3 separate regions of the Homo sapiens genome follow, and regions 2 and 3 are each linked to region 1. The links come from fine-mapping of genetic effects on gene expression. A gene starts in region 1. Each other region holds a variant in brackets. All regions are shown on one strand. Distances are between the middles of the regions.

Region 1 (8,458 bases):
AGTTCTATTTTCCTTTTATATTTGAAATAGGCTCAAAGTTTGCCCAGGGAGCTTAGGTTCTTTGACTTATAGAGAATTCATGATTTGTTTCTAACTCTTCTATTTACTGTAACTTCAAAGTGGAAAATGAACCATATAAATGTGTAATAGAATTATTTCTAATATATCAAAATAAGTAAAAATAAAAATATAAAGCAATGGCGATTAGAAGGCAGCTTGTGTGTGAGTGTGTCTGTATGTAGTTATTCTTTAGTCCTAAGAGCCAAGATAGTTGTTTTGTTGACATTGGGCTTGTGCTGCTGTTACGTGGGCCTGAGTCCCCTAGAAGGAGAGGCAGAGGAATTTTAAATCAGAGTGGGTATGACTAGGCTCCTGACTCTGCAAACTCATGTCTAGTTGAGGTGACAAAACTACAGTTTAAGGCAGGTTGTAATCACAGCTAATATGGCACTTTGACTGTGTTATCTCTGTACCTCACAAAAACCCTGTATGGTGGGTGTTCTTATTTGCATTTCATAGGTGAGGAAATCAAGACTCAGAGATGAAATCATCTGTCTAGATCATAGATAGCAAGTGGCAAAGCTGGAAATGGGATCCAGTCTCTGATCTTTCTCACACCAGGGCCTGCCCTTTTTCTATGTGGTGTTGCTTCTCTAAGTACCAATAATATAGTTCCAAGTTTTTTAAGAGAGGGAGAAGCAAGTGGGGTTTGAAGGATCAGGAAATATATAGTACCTGAGCTGGTCATTTAAAACGGGTATGATTTTGATCAATAGTATGGCAGAGATGGCACTCAGGGCAGGAGAGCAAAGTCAGAGAAATTTGCATACCTCCTTTGGGTGATGTTGAGGAGAGCTCAGGCTGATAGTTTCCATTTTGACTTCTTTGTGCTATTTCTGCAGGGAGGTCCTGGCCAGTGAAGCCATCCTTAATGTTCCTGATAAGTCTGACTGGAGGCAGTGTCAGATCAGCAAGGAAGACGAGGAGACCCTGGCTCGCCGCTTCCGGAAAGACTTTGAGCCCTATGACTTTACTCTGGATGACTAAAACAAAGGGAAGAACTTTTTATGAACTCCACAGGAAGTAGTAAAGCTTTTTTTTTTTTTTAATTAAAAGAATTTTTTTTGAGACAAAGTCTCGCTCTGTCACCCAAGCAGGATTGCAGTGGCATAACTGTGGCTCACTGTAGCCTCAACCTCCTGGGCTCTAGAGTTCCTCCCACCTCAGCCTCATGAGTAGCTGGGACCACAGGCGCATGCTACCATGCCTGGCAAACTTTTTTGATTTTTTATAGAGACAGGAGGGTCTCCCTGTGTTGCCCAGGCTGGTCTGTAATGCCTAGGCTCAAGGGATCCTCTGCCTTGGCTTCTTAACCTGCTGGGATTACAAGCATGAGACACCATTCCTGGCCTAGAAGCCTATTTTTAAAGAAACTACAATCTCCCATGGGGACTGTTTCCCTGCCTCTTTTGTGCAGTCCCATGGAACTTGCCTACAGCAAGAGGCCTAAGATTGAATCTTTTTGGGGAAAAGTCATTCTAGGATGAAAATCCTATGTTAAGGCCGGGCGCAGTGGCTCACGCCTGTAATCCCAGTACTTTGGGAAGCCGAGGCAGGTGGATCACCTGAGGTGAGGAGTTTGAGACCAGCCTGGCCAACATGGTGAAACCCCGTCTTTACTAAAGCTACAAAAATTAGCTGGGCGTGGTGCCAGGCACTTGTAATCCCAGCTACTCAGGAGGCTGAGGCAGGAGAATTGCTTGAGCCTGGGAGGTGGAGGTTGCAGTGAGCCAAGATCGCTCCATTGCACTCCAGCCTGGGTGACAGTGAAACTCCATCTCAAAAATAAAAGAATAAAAGTATGTCTGTCATCCAGCTCCTATGTCTGTTATCCAGCTCCAAGTACAGCTTGTGTATATCAACATTTTCAAAAACCTTTAAACTACCAAATGAAATCCAGATGTTTTTCCATGGTTGAGAAGTGTCTTGTGTTCATGTTGCCTGTGACCGTTGAAATGAAGTAGTATGTGTAATAGCAGGGGCTAGAGCTTTAGGCCCAGCTGTTACTCCAAAATCACACAGGGCAGTTTCTCCCTGAACAACCCAAAGTGGAAAAGGGATCCAAGGCTTTTGCTATTTTTCTCTTAAGCATTCATCTTATTCATAGATAAGAGCCCATTTAGTCCTTCGGATATTTAACTCCTATGTGCCAGGCATTTTTCTAAGCTCCAGGACCATAGTCATGTCCCAATATGGTCCCTGTTGTCCCAGAGATTACAGTTTAATGGGGAATAGAAGGGACAGATTTAAGAAAAAAAAGATAATTCTCCTTTGGATATTGTTTTAGGTGCTTGATATATCTAATATGTGTCTGTTGTGCTGCTGGGCAGTTCTAAACTCATCAGTACCTGGGTTGGTTACAGGGCTTTGGGGATCATCAGGGTATAGGCCATAGGTGAAATTAAGATAGGGTAAATACAGTCCTGAGCTGAAGATGATTACCTGAGAAATATCAGTATTTAAGGAGTGCTTGAAAATAGTGATCTAACATTTACATAGAGAAGGAGCAAAGAGAATGCTACATATTAGGCGCAAAAAGAAAAATATTTTTACCTTTATATTGGGCACTTATGGTCCAGACACTGTTTCATTTAATCTTCACAAAATCTCTGTGAGGTAGGTATTACCTCTATTTTACTCATGAAAAAAAAACTGAGACTCGGAAAATTGAAGATTGTGGAGCCTGGGGTCAACAGGCTTAGGCTTTTTAAAAAACAGGCCAGGTGGCTCATGCCTGTGATTGCAGCACTTTGGGAGGCTGAGGCAGGCAGATGACCTGAGATCAGGAGTTTGAGACCAGCCTAGCCAACACGGTGAAACCCCGTCTCTACTAAAAATGCAAAAAATTAGCTGGGCGTGGTTGCATGCGCCTGTAATGCCAGCTACTCGGGAGGCTGAGGCAGTAGAATTGCTTGAACCCTGGAGGTGGAGGTTGCAGTGAGCTGAGATCACACCATTGCACTCCAGCCTGGGTGACAAGAGTGAAACTCCATCTCAAACAATAACAACAACAACAACAAAAAACAACTCAAATTACTCATGGCCCTGGGAATGGGGGCATTTAAAAAGTTAACCAAGGGAACCAACCTGGTTTCCACAAAGATGGCCACTTCTGGGTCAGCCCAATCATCAGTATCCCTGGGTCCTCAGCATCCCTTCCTACCTCTTTTGACTGGGAATTACGAGATTACAGCCCCACCTACGGAAATTGAGCACATTAGCACTGGCCATGCTGTACATACAGCAAATGAGAGGGCTTCATACTGTTACAACAATCTGTACCACAATTCTCTGTGCGGTCTGCCCAGCTCTAAATGACATGTCCTCAGAGGCATCATCATCTCCAAGTCCATGGAAACCATGCACTTACAGAAACCAGAACCTCCCATACCACATGTTACTAATGACCTACAACATCGACTTCGTCTGTATCATGCAGTGCTCAACATTCTGGTTGCAGCATCACATTTATCAATAATTTGATTCCATGCTGATTCCTTTACTTGGAGTATTGAGATCCCCCAGGTACAGTGAAGGTATGACCCTCTTAAATGGAAGACCAGGAGTTGTTTCCCCTATGCTATGGCAATCCGCCACCCGGAAGCACTTGCTGCACCAACAGCATTCCCAAAGCTTGCCTCTGCAGCCCTGTAGCACCCATTAGAAACACTTCTCACAATGAACTACTGTGCTGGCAAACCCATAACTGGACTGCCGGACAGCAAGCTCTGTGAGGCATCTAGGAAAAAAGCTCGCGAAATCCCGAGAAACACTCTTCACTCCGGAATAGCGTCACATTCTTGAGTCATTTGGGATGACAGGGGATATCCTGGAGCAGGTGTATTGGGAAGTCAGTGAACAAGAAGGCTAATTCATTAGTGGGCCTGCTAGCGTAGTATTTTAACGATTTCGCAGCCTTTAAATCATTGGTGGTCTTTAGCGTGCCGGATCAGCTGGTGGTGGAGTTGGAGGATAGATGGCAGGGATCTGAAGAAAGGTGAAGTGTAGATAGGAGTAGAGACAATATGAAGTTTAGAAAAGACTAATTGCTGGACGCGGTGGCTCATGTCTATAATCCCAGCACTCTGGGATGCCAAGGTGGGAGGACTACTTGAGACCAGGAGTTCGGGACCAGCCTGGGCAACGTAGCAAGACCATGTCTCTACAAAAAATAAAAAATTAGCCAAGCGAGGTGGTGCGCGCCTGCAATCCCAGCTACTCGGGAGGTGAGAAGATCGCTTAATTCCGGGAGGTCGAGGCTGCAGTGAGCCGTGATCGTGCCATTGCACTCCAGCCTGGGCAACGGAGCGAGACCCCATCTTAATTAAAAAGAAAAAAATACAGGAGAGACTGGGCTGCTTTGAAAAGTGGATTTGACGGGAATGTGGGGTTTGGAGAGATCTTATGTTTTCCAAGACTAGAAAAACATTGTGGTTCCGTTCAGCCCTCCCGGAAAATACGTAGGGGACTTAAAGAGCGGACCGAGTACCTGTTTGTTTCCCCATCCCTTAGCCGGCAGGGCTCTGGCAGCGCCCTGGGAGAACTTAGGGAAGGGCCTTCTCGCAGCGGTTACCGGAAGTGACGCATTCATTCTCGCGAGAACAAAGACGCGCGAGCATCGGCGGCCCGGAACCGGCCTTGGAACAACTGTGGAACCTGAGGCCGCTTGCCCTCCCGCCCCATGGAGCGGCCCCCGGGGCTGCGGCCGGGCGCGGGCGGGCCCTGGGAGATGCGGGAGCGGCTGGGCACCGGCGGCTTCGGGAACGTCTGTCTGTACCAGCATCGGGTGAGGCGGGGCGTGAGAGGGAGCGGCGGTGGGTTGGAGCGGCGGTGGGTTTGAGCGTCTGTGGAACACAGGGCTGACAGTGTGGGATAGATGGTTGGTGGGACCTTGGGCAGTATTTGGGGGCCAGTGGGCTTGTGTGTGTGTATTAGAGAGAAAGATACTATGCCTGTGTGTCCAAAGTTGTATTTGAGGTACTGGGCATAGATAGAGCTGTTGCGGGGAACTTGGGTATGACTGTCAGGCTGTGACCAGGTGTTTAGTGAGTGTGACAGTGCGTGTGTGTCTCTGTGAATGTGGAGTGTCAGGGTGTGTGAGGCAGATGCACGTCACAGTGTGTATGTAGGAGCACGAATGTGTGAGAAGAGGGCTGAAGGGGACTGCCTTTGGGAATGTGTGCGTCCGTGTGTGTGTGTGTGTGTGTGTGTGTGTGTGTGCGCGCGCGCGCGCGCGCTTGGAGGCCATATGATATCAGTGGGGACTGGAGTAGACAAGGAAGGCTTCATGATGGGTCCAGAGTTAAGCCTTTGGAAGCATGGATGGGCTTTGGAATTGGGGATGTATTCCAGGTCGGGACAGTATGAGGGTGAGTTGGTGCAGAGCATGGCTTCAAACGAAAGGCTATATTAGTAGATGGAGATGGGGGGCGCTCTAGTAGGTGGAGGACAGTTAACATCAGACTCAAGAATTTTACTTTGATTTAATAGAGAATGTTTAACCATTGTAGTAGCAGTTAAAAAATCATATTTGGGTCTTGTTTGTTTGTTTTTGTTTTTGAGACGGAGTCTCACTCTGTCGCCCAGGCTGGAATGCAGGGCGCGATCTCGGCTCACTGCAGCCTCCTCCTCCCGAGTTCAAGCGATTCTCCTGCCACAGCCTCCTGAGTAGCTGGGATTACAGGCGCCCGCCACCGTGCCTGGCTAATTTTTTTGTATTTTTAGTAGAGACGGGGTTTCACCATGTTGGCCAGGCTGGTCTCGAACTCCTGACCTCAGGCGATCCACCTGTCTCAGGCTCCCAAAGTGCAGAGATTATAGGCGTGAGCCACGGCACCAGGCCTGGGACATGTATTTTTTGATATACCGATAAAAGCTGTGAACCCTTTCCCCAGAAAAATGCACAGATGCACATTCACACAACCATGCATTGCCATTTGAGAGGTTCGTGCCTTCCTAAAGGACATTTTAGGTAAATAGACCCTGGACTAATAATTCCTGTAATATAGGCTTTGTTTTGTTGCCTGTAAAGTAAGTATAGTATAATAATTACATGCATCATGGATTTGAGAGTTAAATAAAATAGTAATGTGTGTAAAGCTAAATACGGTACCTGACCCATGAAAGCCCTCAACTGTTAGCACCTGCTGCTACTTTGTTGTTGTTGCTGCTATGATCATAATGCTCCTCATTAATTGGCCTTAAGGAAATGTCAAGATAAAAAGTGTTGTTCTAGGAAAATGGTTTTGTAAAGGATAAATTTGAGTGGAACAACATATGGGACAAGATGAACAGGTAAGATCTTACTAAAATGCCTGGGCTTGGCTTGTGAATAGAGAAGTTAATTCAAGAGGAAAAGTAATAATTTGTTATCTAAAGGAACATGGGTGTAGTGAGAAAGCTCGTAATTTGGGGTGGGAGAAAGGGGAGATAGGAGTCTACCTTGGGAAAATAGGCATATTTAGGGTAATTAGAATGACAACTGAAACTGTTAGAACTGAGGAAGTTTTGTGAACCAGGTTTCTAGATAGGGCATAGGAGAAAATCTTGGAGAAAGAGAATGGAAGGTGAAGGACTAAGGCATTAAGTCCTGTGATAGCAGGATAAGTAGTAAATTTAATAATTCTCACCATCAGAGGGAACATAACACACTAAAAAAAAAAAAAAGTGGGAGCCAAGTGCTTCCAGTGGCATGTTGCCTGTGTTACCTAAGCCTGCCTATCCGCCTGGTCATAAGGAAAAAGGATGCATGCTGGCAGCTTTTGTGACTTCTTTTCTTGGTCCCTGGGTGGGGATGGATGAATTAATCACTTTTTGTTTTATTATGGTAAAGTATACATAACACAACATTTATCACTTTATTTTTAAGTGTACAGTTAGGTGGCATTAAGTACATTGACGTTGTTGTACAGCCATAACCCTATCTCCAGAATATTCCGACTTTTTTGTTGTTGTTGTACATCTATAAACTTCCCATAGAATATTCTTTGTGAAAAGGTAGAATTTCACAGAGTTGATGAAATATAAATTAAGGAGTTGAAGGATCTTACAAAGTGGGATTTTTGAAATAGATAACTTATTGCTCCATTAACATGAGCATTCAGGGCTCAGTGTTGTTCATGGTTGTGCCTGATTCTCATTTCCATGGTGGTAAAGGCCTGCATGGGACATAGATATAACTGGTCACCTGCTCATAACAAAAGGAAGATTGAAGGGAGTGAGAACTGTGGGTAGGCTAGCATGCAGTCTATCCTAGTTTCCTTCTTCTCTATGCACCAGGTATCATCTTATCTCTAGCTTCTTTTTTCCTCTCACCCTCCAATTCACACTACCCTATCCAAGCTATGTCTTGCTTCCCCACCTATAATATATTTTTTCTGTCCTGGCCCCTGGGCTCTTCTCTCTGTATTCATACACAGCCTTTATTACAACTCTGGTTTGTGTCAGAGATTACATATGTTGGAAATTCTTTTGAACTCTCCTTGTGATATCAGAAACATAGTGTAGCCTGTTTAGCCCTGACTGCTATTTCTGAGCTGCATTATTAATGTTGCCAGAATATGATGGGGTCTGGCTATTTCCTGTAATATGCATCAGAATGGGTTTAATTTCAGTCAGAATTGGCTAAATTACTAGTCACAGGCAAGAGATGTTAGGTTCATTATGTAGCTATGGAAGCAGAAGTACACTCATTGGTAGGATTTTTTTTCTTCATGTCATTTGAAATGCATACATTAGGATTGGAGTTTTTTGCTTTAGGCTTGGTTATATTAAAACTTTCTCTTGCTGTTTGGAGTCCAGGAAGCCCTGAATTACCTTCTTCATTTTAGTTATGCTAGAAGCTGGGGCACATATTAGTTGTCTTGATTAAGCTCTGAAAGGGGTTTGCTGAGGAGACAGGATCTTTTTTTTTCTAACATTATATATGAGAGAGAGTTCTGAAAAGACCTGTTATAAAATCAGTTTCAGGCACTTTTCCCTTGTATGCTGTTGTGTGTTTGAAGGTCAGTTTTAAAGCATTGGTGTAATAGTCTCATGGTTTATCTTTTTAAAAAGCATTGCCTCAAGAGAGCTGTGGATAAATATATTTAATTAGTAAAGCTAAAAAGTTTTGTTGTCTTAAGTTATTTCTTTGGTAGCAAATAAATCTTCACAAGAACCTAATTTTTTTTTTCTGTTGATTTTCTATTTTGGCAGGAACTTGATCTCAAAATAGCAATTAAGTCTTGTCGCCTAGAGCTAAGTACCAAAAACAGAGAACGATGGTGCCATGAAATCCAGATTATGAAGAAGTAAGTGTATTCCTTGACTTACATTTCCCTGGTTCTACAGCCCAACCAGATGTCATCATGGGGAAAGAGGCCAGGAATCCACTCTTCTCAGGATCTTTTTGGGAACA
Region 2 (8,458 bases), 40 kb after region 1:
GTAAGCAGAAGATTATTGATCTACTCCCTAAGGTGGAAGTGGCCCTCAGTAATATCAAAGAAGCTGACAATACTGTCATGTTCATGCAGGGAAAAAGGCAGAAAGAAATATGGCATCTCCTTAAAATTGCCTGTGTAAGTAATTATTAATGAATTATTTAATGTGACATTGAGTTGCTATTATTCCTTGCAAAGGGGATTTTTATCAGCATGAGGTGGGCCCTCTTGAAGACATGTATATTTTGCATTGGGATGACATCCATGTTCCTTGCTTGGTGTCCAGACTAGCAATTGAGATGCAGGACTTATTATCATCTCTCCTTTCCAATTTCTCTGTTGTTATACTCCTCTTAGCCCTTGACTACTGTGGTATTCCAACCTAACTTGGGGATAGATGTACCTGCCTAGATAATGAAATTGACCATCTATTCAACTGGGTTTTTTTTTTCTTTCTTCAACTAAAATGGTATAAGATGAGTGGATATATTTGGTTTTAGTCAATGAAGAAAGGGTCCAAGGACAGGTTACTAATGGTGTGTAAAGGTGGGAATAGTTTTGTACTGAAATACTCTGGTTGTGCATATAAGTAGTAACGGAAATGTAAGTCTTAGGAATATGATAAGAAATTGTGTGAATCAACAGAGATGCTTGCCTGTAATCTTTTGATGTTTTTTTCTTTTCCTTCAGACACAGAGTTCTGCCCGGTCCCTTGTAGGATCCAGTCTAGAAGGTGCAGTAACCCCTCAGACATCAGCATGGCTGCCCCCGACTTCAGCAGAACATGATCATTCTCTGTCATGTGTGGTAACTCCTCAAGATGGGTGGGTTTACTTTGTAACAATAGATAGCTGTGTTTTCATAGCAGTGGTATAGGAATGAGGCAGTAGTTGTTAAGGTAGTCTTCTGTGCCTTCAGACCAGGGTTGAGTCCTGACTATCCCTTTGTAATAATCTTAGGCAACTTACTTGACTTTTTTGATGTTCATATTTCCTCACCTGTAAAACAGGAATGTCTCATAGAACTGCTGTGGAAATTTGATTAGACAATGTATATAAAGTGCTTGGGAAATAAATGTTCAGCAAATGTTGCGTATTATTAGCTCAAATGTTGCTTATTATTAGCTAAGTCCAAGTTCTAAGTCCTTTCTTTTATTGGCTTATTACTTTCTTTTACTCAAACCTTACTCCTTCATTAACAGTTTATGAGAAATTATGCTATCATTTTGCATTTATCATTTTGGGGATCCTTGATTACCCTTCTAATAAATTTTTGAGATCTATTTTATAACTTTGTATTTCTAAGATTAGACTTTTTTCAGTGTTTTAAATCAGTTTTGCAAGAACTCAGATTCCAAGCCCTATATTTTATTAATTCCTACTCTTTTGCTAAAAGCTGAATGACTATCCATTTCTGTTATTTTCTCAGCTTAAGATGTGCCGTATCCAAAGCCAGTGGCTCTTTGCTAGCTTGTGTATTGTCGCTTTTCTCACAACTCATGGAGACCTCTACAGCACCAGCATTTCCTGGAAGCTCTGCCCATAATTAGTTTTGCAGAAGTGCAGCCATGTTACATCACTGCTCAGGAGGTCATGCAGTTGCACATTCTGTACTCTACTTTTATGAGAGAAAAGCACATGGCAGGAAGGCAAGCTGATATCAGGTATTTTATTTTTTTAAAGAAAGCAAGTTCCAGGGTATATATCTTGGGGTCATTATACATGTGGCCCAATGCAGTACACCTACAACTGTAGCACAGGCTATAATTAAATATATAGACTTTACAAAATACTCCAGTAATCAGAGTTGAAGGAAGTAAAATTTAATACTTTACTTACTTTTTTGCCTTTATTAAAGGCATTTAAGTTTTTTAGCGGATGTTAATGTTTACAAATGTCACCACAATACAGGTAATTTCCAATTTGAAGTGTAGTTGCTTGCAAAAGTATATCTGACAGACATTTTCAATGTATTTTCTAGAAGGAACACATTATATTTTGTTTTGAGACGGAGTCTCATTCTGTCGCCCAGGCTGGAGTGCAGTGGCACAGTCTTGGCTCATTGCAACCTCCGCCTCCCAGATTCAAGCAGTTCTCCTGCTTCAGCTTCCCGAGTAGCTGGGATTTCAGGTGCGTGCCACCATACCTGGCTAATTTTTGTATTTTAGTAAAGACGGAGTTTCACCATGTTGGCCAGGCTGGTCTCGAACTCCTGACCTCAAGTAATCCACCTGCCTCGGCCTCCAAAAGTGCTGGAATTACAGGCATGAGCCACCATGTCCAGCCAGAATACATTGTATAAGAAAATTGATTTCAATTATAATGTACCTGTGGTACTTAACTACCAAGGATTGGGAACTGTTTGACCATAATTTTTCCATCTGTTGGATAAGAGCTGAATCAGAATGTCATTCTAAGCTAATAGTGGCTATCATCCATGACCTAAAACGGACTCTTGTTAGGGGACTGAAGATTGGCAAAGGGAGAAGCTAGAGGCCATATAGAAGAGGAAAGCATGAAGGTAGAAACCACAATCAGGACTGCCTTCAAATATGAACTTCCAGGGATACTTCTTGGTTCTGGGTAGCTCCCCCACCACACTGTTTTCTTTTGCTGTCCTCAGGAATCAGCTTGCTTGTTTCGTTTCATTGCTATCATCTGTAGTTTCTAATGAGTTTTTCACTTTCTGTGATCTCTACAGAACAGATTTTACTTTTCTCTCTTCTCCCCTACATTTGTGTCTGTGAAGTATGCATGCTGGTGTTTTTACTACTTTTAAGGAAAGAGAAGTATTTAGAAACAAAAACGTATTTCATCTGTCTTTGCCACAAGGATTTTTTCCTCCCTAGTTACATTTTCACGGGAAAAACAAGTTGTACATAAGTGCATCTTACATTTCAGAGGAAAGTCAGACTGGAGTTATAGTGGACTTCTTATCATTAGTTAGGTAGAGGTAGAGGCAGCAGCCTGGTCTTAACAGGACTCTGCCTCTGTAGGGAGGGATGAGGAAACTAAAGACTACAGGAGTCAACTGCACTGGGGTACTGGGTTACAGGAAGGCTAGTGATCTTGCTAACCTAGAAGACTAGAAAGTAGAGGAAATTCATATGCCCTTTTCCTGAGTTTGAAAAGGCTTTGTTCTTTCATCTCACAGGGAGACTTCAGCACAAATGATAGAAGAAAATTTGAACTGCCTTGGCCATTTAAGCACTATTATTCATGAGGCAAATGAGGAACAGGGCAATAGTATGATGGTAAGTTTTGTGTGGATATGGGTGCCTGCTTTGGCTATGTTGGGTGCAAAAGGTTTAACTTTCCATGCTAGCCTTATCTGGCATTTGGGATGCATATGGGAAATAGAAGAACTCAAGAGGAAAGAGCATTTGGGGAATATCCTCAACCTTAAATCCTTATCTGCCGTTACTCAGGGATATACTAGGATTATGTCATCAATTATCTTCAATAATAGCATTTTTGGTCAAATTAAATGAGTGGTAAGCTTCTTCACAATGTGACCATTGAAATTGAATGGTTTGTTCTGTACCTTTTTGCTTCAGCAATCAATTTTCTCCATTAAGATGGGACTTGTACTTTAATTCAGATATGGTACCTCCCGAATAGAAAATAAATTATGTTAATATAGTTGTAATAATAAGTGTGTGTTAAGATTTGGTTACTATAAACTACTGATTTGTTAAAACTTGAGGAAATTACCATAAAATGTCTACTGAATCAATTTTTCCTGCATTTAGTCTTAATGTCAATTCTGTACATTTCCTCTTTCATTAAGAAAAATAGCAGTGGCCAGGCATGGTGGCTCACGCCTGTAATCCTAGCACTTTGGGAGGCCAAGGCAGGTGGATTGCTTGAGCCCAGGAGTTTGAGACTAGCCTGGCCAACATGGGAAACCCTGTCTTTATAAAAAATATAAAAATTGGCCAGGTGTGGTGGCACACACCTGTGGTCCCAGCTACTTGGGAGGCTGAGGCAGGAAGATCGCTTGAGTTCAAGAGTTTCAGGCTGCAGTGAGCCGTAATCCTGCCATTGCACTCCAGCCTGTGACAGAGTGAGACTTTGTCTCGGGGAAAAAAAAAAAAAAAAAGGATAATGGTGGCCAGCCATATGACATGTACCTGTAGTCCGAGTTACTAGGGAGGCTGAGGCAGAAGGATTGCATGAGCCCAGGAGTTCAAGGCTGCAGTGCATTATGATTGGACTTGTGAATAGCCACTGTACTCCAGCTTGGCAACATAGCAAGATCCTGCTCTCTTAAGAAAAAAAAAAAAAAGAAAAGAAAAGGAAAGAATAATTGTTTACTTCAAATATTTATGAAAAAAACTCTGAAATTTTTTTAAATCAGGAAATAAGGTAAATGAAATGATTTTTCAACTTTTGATTATGAAATGTCCAAACAGAAAACTTGCAAAAATGAACACCCATATACTTATAACTTATAGTCAACATCTAATTGTAACTTTTTCATGCCTGGTTTTAGAATCTTGATTGGAGTTGGTTAACAGAATGAGTTGTCACTTGTTCACTGTCCCCAAACCTATGGAAGTTGTTGCTATACATGTTGGAAATGTGTTTTTCCCCCATGAAACCATTCTTCAGACATCAGTCAATGGAAGAAATGGCTATGAACAGAAACTACATTTCTACTATGATCAGAAGAACATGATTTTACAAGTATAACAGTTTTGAGTAATTCAAGCCTCTAAACAGACAGGAATTTAGAAAAAGTCAATGTACTTGTTTGAATATTTGTTTTAATACCACAGCTATTTAGAAGCATCATCACGACACATTTGCCTTCAGTCTTGGTAAAACATTACTTATTTAACTGATTAAAAATACCTTCTATGTATTAGTGTCAACTTTTAACTTTTGGGCGTAAGACCAAATGTAGTTTTGTATACAGAGAAGAAAACCTCAAGTAATAGGCATTTTAAGTAAAAGTCTACCTGTGTTTTTTTCTAAAAAGGCTGCTCACAAGTTCTATTTCTTGAAGAATAAATTCTACCTCCTTGTGTTGCACTGAACAGGTTCTCTTCCTGGCATCATAAGGAGTTGGTGTAATCATTTTAAATTCCACTGAAAATTTAACAGTATCCCCTTCTCATCGAAGGGATTGTGTATCTGTGCTTCTAATATTAGTTGGCTTTCATAAATCATGTTGTTGTGTGTATATG[TATTTA/A]AGATGTACATTTAATAATATCAAAGAGAAGATGCCTGTTAATTTATAATGTATTTGAAAATTACATGTTTTTTCATTTGTAAAAATGAGTCATTTGTTTAAACAATCTTTCATGTCTTGTCATACAAATTTATAAAGGTCTGCACTCCTTTATCTGTAATTGTAATTCCAAAATCCAAAAAGCTCTGAAAACAAGGTTTCCATAAGCTTGGTGACAAAATTCATTTGCTTGCAATCTAATCTGAACTGACCTTGAATCTTTTTATCCCATTTAGTGTGAATATTCCTTTATTTTGCTGCTTGATGATGAGAGGGAGGGCTGCTGCCACAGACTGTGGTGAGGGCTGGTTAATGTAGTATGGTATATGCACAAAACTACTTTTCTAAAATCTAAAATTTCATAATTCTGAAACAACTTGCCCCAAGGGTTTCAGAGAAAGGACTGTGGACCTCTATCATCTGCTAAGTAATTTAGAAGATATTATTTGTCTTAAAAAATGTGAAATGCTTTTATATTCTAATAGTTTTTCACTTTGTGTATTAAATGGTTTTTAAATTACTTTCTTGATCTCTATTCATTATAAAAATCAGATTATAATAAAACAGTTGAATATGGCTTAGGAAAATATGAAGGTTCCATGAAGTGGAATTAAGAGCATAGAATAACTGTACTTTCCTTAGGAATAATAGGACTTATGGTAAAGGTAGTATTGGGCAACTTCTTTAAGAGTGTTTTCCTCTGAGATGTCCTATCACCACTATCTACATCTAAAAAACATGCTCGATTCTTGCCCTATAAACTGATGTCACAGCCCCACCATCCCCATTTTTGCTAGTGGTATCATTTTCCTAGTCAACCAAATTTTTTAGTCATCACATATCACTGTTCGTCATCTATTATAATAGGCAGTCTCTCTCTTGTTTCCCTGGTTTTAGAAGATTTTAGTAATAAACATTTATTGGGTACCTGTTACTTGGAGGGTATTAAGCTAGATGGCAAGATCTGAAACAACATAGGCAGTATAGTAAAAGTGCTTATCTGGGAGTCTGAACATTACAAGCCATCCAAGCATTGCAATTATTGTTAAGGATTATTTTCAATGGTCATGCATTTTCTAATATTTTAATAATTGGTTAAAGATTTGTTATAGCGTGGGGGCCGCTGCTGGTGTGTGGCTGGGGTTATGTCAGGGCAGCCTGATCTATATAATTTGGGCAGATGGTGTGAGTCAGAACAGACTATTATAGTGGGATCCCCAAACTTGCTTTTGATGCATGAGTTGGACCACTATTTTTTGGTGGGTAACAACTTTTCAGAGGGGAATGGCAGTTGTGAATTGTATACATTTCATTCTTTAAGCAATATTATGAAAAACTTCAGAGAATGTCTACAGAAAACAGGGTATGGAGCAAGTTATTTTCCATTCTTTTTGCTTTTTGGAAGTTAAAATAGCTAAGCTCTGCAAATATCATTTATTTGGAACAGATAAGGTCCCAGACATTCCTAGATAATAAAAATCAAATGAATGATACAGGTAAGTGTATTTATTGAAGGGTGTGGGTAGAGTGGTCTGGGAAGTCTTGCTTTAATGAAGACGGATTGATTCTATTTACCTCTTCTTACTTCCACTACTAAGTAACCCTGGGCCTGCAGTTTCCTAACCACTTGACTTCCTTGCCAACAGTCTGTCTCCACTTTCAGCCGTTTTATAGATTCATTGGCCCTAAAGCACTGCTTTCCCATACTTCCCTACCCAAGAGGGCAGGGGTCCCCAAGCCCTGGGCCGCGGACCGGAACCAGACAGTGGCCTGTTAGGAACCAAGCCGGATAGCAGGAGGTGAGCGGCGGGCGAGTGAGCATTATCGCCTTGAGCTCTGCCTGCTGTCAGATTAGCGAGTGGCATCAGATTCTCATAGGCACGCGAACCCTATTGTGAACTGCACATGTGAGGTTTGCCGGCTCCCTGTGAGAATCTAATGCCTGATGATCTGAAGTGGAACAGTTTCATCCCCAACCCACACACACCCCCACCCCGTCCGCTGGGTTAGAGGACTTTACAACCCTAGTCCACCTTGTCCAGTTATAGTTCCACCTCTAGCCTTTCAAGGCTTAAACCATTAATGTCCTTAATTTCTCTTGTATTCATCTATCTCCCAACTATACCTTTTTCCTTCCCTTTTTTATTTTTGGCAATATGTGCCCATGGTTTTTTAATTTAAAACGAACAGAATATGTAGTGACGCCTACCATAGCACTCCTTCCCATCACACAAGCCTTCAAGGAAACTGAAGTACTTACTTTGGTCTCCCTGGAGGATTCCCTCCGCCTCCCGCCCCATGTGCTTAGCAATTCTGTTCCTGTAGTCTGGATGGCCTTCATAAAGCCCTCACTGGACCAGCATTCTGGCACATAATAGGAACACTTAAAAAACGAGAGAATGATGCCGTTATATCTAATATCTTCCTCTTCTGAACTTTCACAGCACTTTATTTGCAACAAGTTTAGTTGCTCCTGAAGGGCAGGATCTCTGCCGGAAGCAAGTGCGTGCCACACAGTGGGGCTCCGCATACACTGCAAAAGGACAAATAAACCGAACAGCTACCGTTTGAGAGTGAGCGAGTGGGTTCTCTGCACAAGAACAAACCAACCAGTCCCTTGTCCGAAAGGGCGTCTCCTTTTCTCTGCTTCGCTGCTCACTCCAGACTGCGGGCTGTCCTCTTCCGAAGCAGTTAACCAGCAGTGTACAGAAAGCGACTTGCCTCCAAAGGAGCCTGCGCGGCCCGCGGCTAGGAGAATTTTGTCCCATGCGCTCCCCGTCTCACTAGCCGCGGGCCGGGGCTACGCCGTGTGCGTCCCCGCGCAGCCGCAGTGCTGGGCGAGTGGGCGGGGCCGGCTGTTGGCGGCGGTTGGCTCGGCGCGGGAGTCGGCTGCACGTGCGGGCGGGGGCGATGCGTCACTGATCGGTGAGGCGCGGCCGAGGGGTCGGCTTTCCTCGCGAGCCTGCGGCTGGGCTTCTTCTCAGTTAGTGCCTTCCACCCGGGAGCGACCCTTGGGAGAGGGAGTTTCAGGAAGCTCACCGAGCAGGGGCGGCCCACTGGCCTCCGGGGGCGGAGGAGTTGGCAAGGGGTCAGCGGGCTCAGCCAGAAGGGAAGAATGAGGGGACAGGGGTACTGGACTCCCCGGCTCAGCCTGCGAGAGAGCGCCAAGTTTCCGGAGGGAGAGGGTAGAAACTGGAGGGGGTGGACCTGTCACTCACGGGACTGAG
Region 3 (8,458 bases), 210 kb after region 1:
CAAGACAGTGTAGCATCCAAACCACACTGAGTCTATTAATAAGTGAGCCAGTAAGATTCACTTTCTCCGTGGCCACAGAAAACACCCCTAAACCCAACCAGCCATCTCGAAAGCAAGGATATAGAAAGTAGGACAGCATGACTTGGTACAAATCTGCCATCAGAACTGGAGAAGTTAGACTTCCTGTGTCTAGAGCATCATCTTTACACATGTGGTACCACAATTTGTCTCATACACACACTCTCAGCACACACCCTGCAATCCACCATGCCCACCTCCTGCCTGGAATGCAGCTTCATTTCTACTTTAACACTAACTGTATTCTGGGTTTAACCATGAGTAAACATTCCCCCTGAGCAAATGCTTAAGCAAACATCACTTCTCTCCCTCCTCCCAGAAGTTAAATATCACTATTTATAAAGGCTTCCCCCTACCCCTACTGTCTCTTATTCTTTCCCTCACCACTTCATGATCCTCCCCACACTGCTACTCGTTAATCTTTCTTTCTCCCACCTTCATTCTGTTCACATACTTCCTGCACCCCTTCGCCCCCACCCCACCAGGCCCTGCTGCAGGTGGGTGTAGCATCACCTAAGAAGCACTGCCTGGAGCCATGAAGGGATAAGAGGCCAGCAGCCCGGGGAAAAGCCAAACAGAAAAAGCACTGCTTGTTTCTGCTGTTACTCTGCCTGCCTCCCCCTGCAGTCTCAGGGAGGAGGCAAAGAAAGTCACCGCTTGGATCCATGTTCACCCTGCAGGAGGAGGGAGAAAAGGCATCTTTGACTTCCTTTTAGATTGTCCCATATGAGCCCTTTGGGATGAAGTCCATCCCGGGCACTAGATCAAAGGAATTGAGTGAGTTTCCTCAAATCCTTTCTGGAATCAGATGAAGAATAAATAAATGAAGAAATAAAGTGACCACAATTTTGTTCTTTTTAAAAATATCCAAATATAGTATTTGAAACACACGGTAGTTTATAGAAGGCTTTTATTTTACAAGCCAATAATTTTTTTTAATGTCAGACATTGGTACATTACCAATGTTGTAGCAAGGTTTGAGGGAGGTACATCTCACGCATGAGCATGAAAACTCAATCATCATGCTTATGACCTACAAAATGACCTAATTTTTTTTTAATGGAAGGATAAAGGGCCCACCAACTTTCTTTTTTTTTTTTTTTTCGATAGGGTATTGTTCTGTTGCCCAGGCTGGAGTGCAGTGGCACAATCACAGCTGCCTGCAACCTTGACCTCCTGGGCTCAAGTGATCCTCCTTTCTCAGCCTCCTGAGTAACTGAGACTACAGGCATGTACCACTATGCCTGGCTAATTTTTAAATTTTTTGTAGAGATGGGGGTTTCACCATCTTGCCCAGGCTGGTCTTGAACTCCTGAGCTCATGTGATCCTCCTCCTTCAGCCTCCCGAAGTATTGGGGCTACAGGCATGAGCCACCATGCCTGGCTACTTTCTATTTTGGACTAACTTTCTAATTTTCTATTAAGGACTATTGGTAAAATACAATTGTTATCCACTATCACCATCAATTCGTAAATACTCTAACACCAAAAATTAGGAAAGGTATAATCTCAGAATAAAGAAGTCTTGTAAATGAAATTTTTCTCATCTTACTAGGAAATAGTAAATCTTCCATCTTAGACTGGCATATTGAGCCAGTAGTTTAGAGATGAGACCTTTATTGGCATATAACTAAAAATCCAGACATAGCTGGATTGAGGTGCCTAAGTTAGGTGGTATGGAATCTCTCTCCATTTCTTGATTTCATTGTCTTCAGTAGTGACTTCATTCTCACATAGTCTCTCTCCATGAGGCAAGGTGAACAACAGCTCCTTTTAGCTTATCTTCTCTCAGCTATCAAAAGACAAAATTACAACAAATTTAGATTAAAGATCGAATTGGCTTTTATTTGCAATTCTAGAATTGGGCAACAACTCATTCTATAAGATAGAATGAGTGTTCAGATGAGTTGAGCAGAGAAATTTGACTTTATAGGCAGAAGAGGGCTGAAGAACGCAGGAACAGAACAAAAACTGATTGGTTGTTACAAAGTTACTTTCCTTATAAAGGTTAAAGCAGAGGGGGCCACCTCATCATGCTTCCCAAAACAGGCCTGTTTGGGGATTTGGCTATTATCTATTTCTTGCCTGATTTCTTGGAAGATCAAATAAATAGCTTAGTTTTGGCTTGGTGGAAACTTCAGTATGAGTAACTCCATTTTGGTTTTATCTGTTAAGCCTAGTGCAAGAGCTCAGTTCCACCCAATGGCCTCCTATAAATTTCATTTAACACAGTTTAGCAACAAACTATTGATTCTTGAGCATGAATCTCAATAGCACAAACTGGATTACGTGCCTATCTCTAAAACTATCACAGTGACTCTGATTGGTCAGTCTGGGGTCATATGATCACTTCTGGGTGCTGGAATGGAAATATGGGGGACTGCGAGTATAGATGAGTTGTTTCCCATTAAAACAAACAAACAAAAAATCCCTGGGAGATCAAGACAGGCAGATCACTTGAGGCCAGGAATTCGAGACCAGCTTGGCCAACATAAAACCCCGTCTCTACTAAAAATAGAAAAGTTAGCCGGGCATGGTGGCACATGCCTGCAATCCCAGCTACTTGGGAGGCTGAGGCAGGAGAATTGCTTGACCGTGGGAGGCAGAGGTTGCAGTGAGTGGAGATCATGCCACTGCACTCCAGCCTGGGCAACAGAGCGAGACTCCATCTCAAAAAGAAAAAAAACAGGAATGATGGTTGTGGACAAAACAACAAAAGAGCATTATAATTTTGTTGAATTTAAGCATCATTTTGATTTTACTGTGACTTTTTTCTGTTTTATTTATCTTTCATTGACATATAATTGTACATATTTATGGGGTACAATATATGTATACATTGTATAATTAGCAAATCAGAGTAATTAGCAAATCCATCATCTCAAATATTTATTACTTCTTTGTGGTGAAAACATTCAGAATGCTCTCTTTTAGTTAATTTGTTTTTATTGATTCTTATTTTTTATTTTTAAATGGAATTTCGCTCTTGTTGCCCAGGTTGGAGTGCAATGGCATGATCTTAGCTCACTGCAACCTCCGCCTCCTGGGTTCAAGCAATTCTCCTGCCTCAGCCTCCCAAGCAGCTGGGATTACAGGCATGCGCCACCACACCCGGCTAATTTTTTTGTATTTAGTAGAGACAGGTTTTCACCATGTTGGTCAGGCTGGTCTAGATCTCCCGATCTCAGGTGATCCACCCACCTCGGCCTTCCAAAGTGCTGGGATTACAGGCGTGCCCCACCATGCCTGGCCCTTATTTTATTTTATTTTTTCTGGAGATGGAATCTTACTCTGTTGCCCAGGCTGGAGTGCAGTGGCACGATCTCGGTTCACTGCAACCTCCGCCTCCCAGGTTCAAGCTATTCTCCTGCCTCAGCCTCCTGAGTAGCTGGGATTACAGGTGTGCAACACCATGCCCAAGTATATTTTGTATTTTTAGTAGAGACGGGGTTTCACCATGTTGGTCAGGCTGGTCTCAAACTCCTGACCTCAGGTGATCCCCCTACTTCGGCAAAGAAAGTCACCCCTTGGATCCATGTTCACCCCGCAGGAGCGGGGAGAAAAGGCATCTTTGACTTCCTTTTAGATTGTCCCATGTGAGCCCTTTGGGATGAAGTCCATCCCGGCACTAGATCAAAGGAATTGAGTGAGTTTCCTTAAATCCTTTCTGGAATCAGAGGAAGAATAAATAAATGAAGAAATAAAGTGACCACAATTTTGTTCTTTTTAAAAATACTCAAATATAGTATTTGAAACACACTGTAGTTTATAGAAGGCTTTTATTTTACAAGCCAATGATTTTTTTTTAATGTCAGACATTGGTACATTACTAATGTTGTAGCAAGGTTTGAGGGAGATACATCTCACACATCAGCCTTCCAAGTAGCTGGGATTACAGCCACACACCACCATGCCCGGCTAAGTTTTGTATTTTTAGTAGAGACAGGGTTTCAGCATGTTGGCCAGGCTGGTCTTGAACTCTTGGCCTCAAGCGATCCACCCCACCTCAGCCTCCCAGAGTGCTGGGATTACAGGTGTGAGACATTGCGTCCAGCCATGGTTTTTACTTCTGAGTGTGAAATAATTCTCTGTTTTCCCGTAAACCAATTCAAGCTTCTGCAAGTAGATAGGAAGAGGAGTCCCTAGGCATCAATATATCAATATATTAAGAACAGCCCTGAAGATAAACATGATACAGTCTTTTCTTCAGAATACAGAAGCTTTCTTATAGGGTCTGTTCTCTTCTAGGAAGAACAAAACAAGACCTGGTCTTACTCTTGCCAACCAGGGTCTATCCCTAAATGAAACCAAATGGCCTCTGTTGTCTTCTAGGAGTTGGCCTTGTCCTAGTTCAAGTCC[A/G]CCAGACAGATGCCCTCTGTGAAAACTATCCTGACTTGGCCGGGTGTGGTGGCTCCGCCTGTAATCCCAGCACTTTGGGAGGCCGAGGCAAGTGGATCACCTGAGGTGAGGTCAGGAGTTCGAGAACAGCCTGGCCAACGAGGTGAATCCCCATCTCTACTAAAAATAGAAAAATTAAACGGTTGTGGTGGTGGGCGCCTGTAATCCCAGATACTTGGGAGGCTTAGGCAGGAGAATTGCTTGAACTCGGGAGGCGGAGGTTGCAGTGAGCCGAGATCCCGCCATTGCACTCCAGCCTGGGCAACAAGAGTGAAACTCCGTCTCAAAAAAAAAAAGAAAAGAAAACCATGCTGACTTCTCCTTTGCCTGTGAGATCTGATCACCAATCTTCCTCTGTCGATCTCTTTTCAACTTGAATTCTCACCGTTCTGAACCTTGGCCATGAGACTGCCAGGTGCATTGTGTCAACATTTTGATGAATAGTTGTTAGTATTTTCATGTGATGTCTGACATTTTAGGATGCAAACCTATGTCTTCCATGTTCTATCACTAGGTTGTTGGATCACATTTTCTTTTATAATAGAAATAAGCATATATTAACAGTATTTTATCTATACATCCCCTCCTCCCCACCACCCTGGAATTTGGTCCCCTGGCTATTCCAGGATGGACGGTTAGCTGACATAGCATGAGCAAGGCCAGCTTTGATTAGTTTCAGCAGCTCACTACTCTCATCTGCTTGCCATTGCAAACAACAGCTTATGGCTGTGACATGGTGCATTGTGGGGGGAAGCCAGAGGGAGTTGCCTTTGATATGGGGCCAAGTCATGCCAAACTGTTAGTTCATGGTGCAGCCCCTCATAACCGTGATAGTACTTACGGTATATCAAAGGATGACACACCCAAATAGTTTTAATCAATTAGATGAATCAAAATATGAATTGAGCCATTCTGTGTTTTGGTTTATTGAGGATTATTCAAGGGGAAAAACAATGTACTTTTTAGTTTTAATATGACATATACAGATATAATCCTTATTGTTAACAAGGCAGTTCCACACACATTTATCTCGTTTGGTTATTTTCATTTCAGTCCCTTCATTTGGGGATATTTTAATCACGTCTCAATACATCAACTTATCACAAAAATCAATCTCTTTACCATGGCTCACCAAACCAGAAATGACCTACATACTGTTTGTTAGATAGTTATTATTTGGCCGTGTGCGGTGGCTCATGCTTGTAATCCCAGCACTTTGGGAGGCCGAGGAGGGTGGATCACCTGAGGTCAGGAGTTCAAGACCAGTCTGACCAACATGATGCAACCCCATCTCTACTAAAAATACAAAAATTAACCGGTTGTGGTGGCGCATGCCTGTAGTCCCAGCTACTTGGGAGGCTGAGGCAGGAAAATCAGTTGAACCTGGGAGGCAGAGGTTGCAGTGAACCAAGATTGCACGCACTACTGCACTCCGGCCTGGGCGACAGAGCGAGACTGCATCTCAAAAAAAAAAAAAGAAAAAAAAAGATAGTTATTATTATTATTATTAAGAGACAGGGTCTTGCTATGTTGCCCAGGCTGGAGTGCAGTGGCTATTCACAGGCACAATCATAATGTGCTGCAATCTTGAACTTCTGGGCTCAAGTGAGCCTCTCACCTCACCCTCCAAAGTAGCTGGGATTACAGATGCGTGACACTGCACCTGGCCCTGTTTGTTTTCTAATCTGATCTCATAAAACTGCCTCCTTTGTTCACATGGCTTATTTTGTGTTTCCGAAACGTACTAGATGGCTTTCTACTTCAAGATTTTGCACCTGCAGTTTCTCCTGCCTGAAGAGCTCTTTACATGGCTGATTCTTTCTCTCTTTTTTTGAGATGGGGTTTCACTCTGTCACACAGGCTGGAGTGCAGTGGTGCCATCATGGCTCACTGCAGATCGTGGGACTACAGGCTTGAGCCACCATGTCCGGCTTGATTCTTTCTCATTATTCAAGTTTCAGGTAAATGTTACATCCCCAGAGGGGATTTCCCCAACTATCTCTATATTCAGAGAAGGTTCCCATCCCTCACTTTGGCCTTTATCAGCCTAGATTCCTTATCTAAACCACATGACATAGAAGCTGTGTGGAGTGAATTGTCCTCTTAGTTCTTTCAAGGACTGAGTATGACTTGAACTGTTCTGGTTGCTGTTGGGGTCAGGTGAACTTCCTCTTCGCCCTCTGAAGTTTTGCTGAAAAATCAGGTCACAAAAGGCAGATTAATTGGCATATGCATCTGTTTGACAATAGTTTTATGTGACACGGAAGACCAACCCCCCAATGGGGTGCAGAAGCTTATGTACCATCTTGAGGCTACAGAAAAAATGGTGACTTGGATGCTGGCAAAACAGGTTATGGGAGGGTGAAGAAGAGGAATTCTATTGAGGGCAATAAATGATTACTAGGGAGAATTCAATGAACTTGAGGAACTTCCAATGGTCTGGGACAAAGTCTGTTGGGCCTGCAGACCAGACAGTGGTTTGTGACAAAAGTCTGTCCAGGTTTATTGACAGACTTTGGTCTTCTTTCTTGCAATGTGGGTTCAGTTAATTAAAACTCAGGAAAGAGATCAGAGATAATTGTTTTTCTTTGGTAGGTCAGGACTTTGGACAGATAAGGAAACTTCAGAGAATACTATGCTTTGGGAGAGACAGTGAAGAGGGGCAGGTGGGAGGAGGTTGAGAGAGACCTTGAGACTGCTTTTTCAGCTCAACATGTACAAAGCACCCTATTTTAGGGTATTGGTTTCTAAGCCCCAACATTGCATAGGAGAGAAGTTAACTCATTACATACAACAAATGCCTAGGGCACTAGGCTTTAATTCTCTGTGATCTAATCTATCGCATCAGTTGGTTTGTTTCCTTCATAACACTCAACTACACCCCATGATTGTCTGGATTATCATTTGTTTATTTCTTTATTGTCTGTTACCCTACTCTAGAATGTGAGCTCCATGAAGGCAAGGATCTTGTCTGTGTTGGTCAGCCTGAATGCCAAACACCTAGCACAATGCCTGTTACATCACAAATGTACAGTAAGAATTCATTGATAAATGAAAAGTATAAAACCACCTTTGCAAAATTTTAACTGAGGAACTTATGAAGTGAAAGAAAGCAGACCTAACTGACCCCATCTTGCTTCTAACCTTTAAGTTGTCCTCGTTCATTCCTGGGCATAGGCTGAACTAACTTTGGGAAAGAATTCAGTTCATGACTCTGAAACAAAATTGATAATAGCCCTTTGCCAAAAAGACCCCCTTCTTGCCTAGGGACCAGTCTGCCTTTGCAGGACTAACAAATTAGCTACAAGATTAGAAATTACAGTTTAAGGCCGGGAGTGGTGGCTCACACCTGTAATCCCAGAACTTTGGGAGACTGAGGTGGATGGATCACTTGAGGCCAGGAGTTTGAGACCAGCCTGGCCAACAATGTGAAACCTCATCTCTACTAAAAATACAAAAATTAGCTGGACGTGGTGGTGCATGCTTGTAATTTCAGCTACTAGGGAGGCTGAGGCACGAGAATCGCTTCAACTCGGGAGGTGGAGGTTGCAGTGAGCTGAGATTGCACCCCTGCACTCCAGCCTGGGCGGTAGACTAAGACTCCGTCTCAAAAAAAAAAAAAAAAAAAAAAATTACAGTTTAGGGGTCATGCAGCCTCTGACTCCAAGAGCCTGAACCTCCCAAATTGCTCCTGGAATAACATCACTATTTCAAAACCTAAGATCAGTATTTGAGATATTTTGCAGACCCTGCAGTTGATGGATCTGCTGACACCATCCAGACCGGTAATCTGGCTCAACCAGTTCTGCATTGCACCCAGGAGCAGAAAACAGCAAGAAAACCTCATTTTGACCCCCTATGTTTCCATCTCCAACCTGACCAATCAGCACTCCCCACTTCTCAAGACCCCACCAGCCAAATTATCTTTAAAAACTCCACAAGGTCAGGAGATGGAGACAATCCTGGCTAACACGGTGATAGT

The links. PIP is the estimated chance that this variant, and not a neighbour inherited with it, causes the effect.
Region 2: its variant is fine-mapped to the expression of CHUK in whole blood (TOPMed, PIP above 0.99). The same link has a PIP of 0.9 or more in lung.
Region 3: its variant is fine-mapped to the expression of CHUK in whole blood (TOPMed, PIP above 0.99).

The regions. Positions count from the first base shown.
Region 1 is chr10:100,225,816-100,234,273 of GRCh38, reverse strand. It overlaps CHUK (component of inhibitor of nuclear factor kappa B kinase complex), which reads left to right and starts at 4,678. Exons shown (of 21, transcript NM_001278.5): 1 at 4,678-4,846; 2 at 8,257-8,351. The coding sequence starts at 4,742. CWF19L1 (CWF19 like cell cycle control factor 1) reads left to right here. Exons shown (of 14, transcript NM_018294.6): 14 at 903-1,976. The coding sequence ends at 1,047. CHUK-DT (CHUK divergent transcript) reads right to left here and starts at 4,614. Exons shown (of 4, transcript NR_186419.1): 1 at 4,550-4,614; 2 at 3,148-3,259; 3 at 831-1,043; 4 at 1-321. RefSeq lists silencers at 3,369-3,631, 4,701-4,940 and an enhancer at 4,541-4,590.
Region 2 is chr10:100,185,660-100,194,117 of GRCh38, reverse strand. ERLIN1 (ER lipid raft associated 1) reads left to right here and starts at 8,089. Exons shown (of 11, transcript NM_006459.4): 1 at 8,089-8,458. It overlaps CHUK (component of inhibitor of nuclear factor kappa B kinase complex), which reads left to right. Exons shown (of 21, transcript NM_001278.5): 18 at 1-134; 19 at 687-820; 20 at 3,150-3,249; 21 at 4,491-5,818. The coding sequence ends at 4,520. RefSeq lists an enhancer at 7,722-7,871 and a silencer at 8,042-8,191. The variant TATTTA/A (reference allele first, on the strand shown) is at 5,188.
Region 3 is chr10:100,012,259-100,020,716 of GRCh38, reverse strand. It overlaps LOC124902583 (small nucleolar RNA U13), which reads right to left and starts at 1,123; the gene lies at 1,018-1,123. RefSeq lists a silencer at 1-49 and enhancers at 6,090-6,639, 6,650-6,769. The variant A/G (reference allele first, on the strand shown) is at 4,438.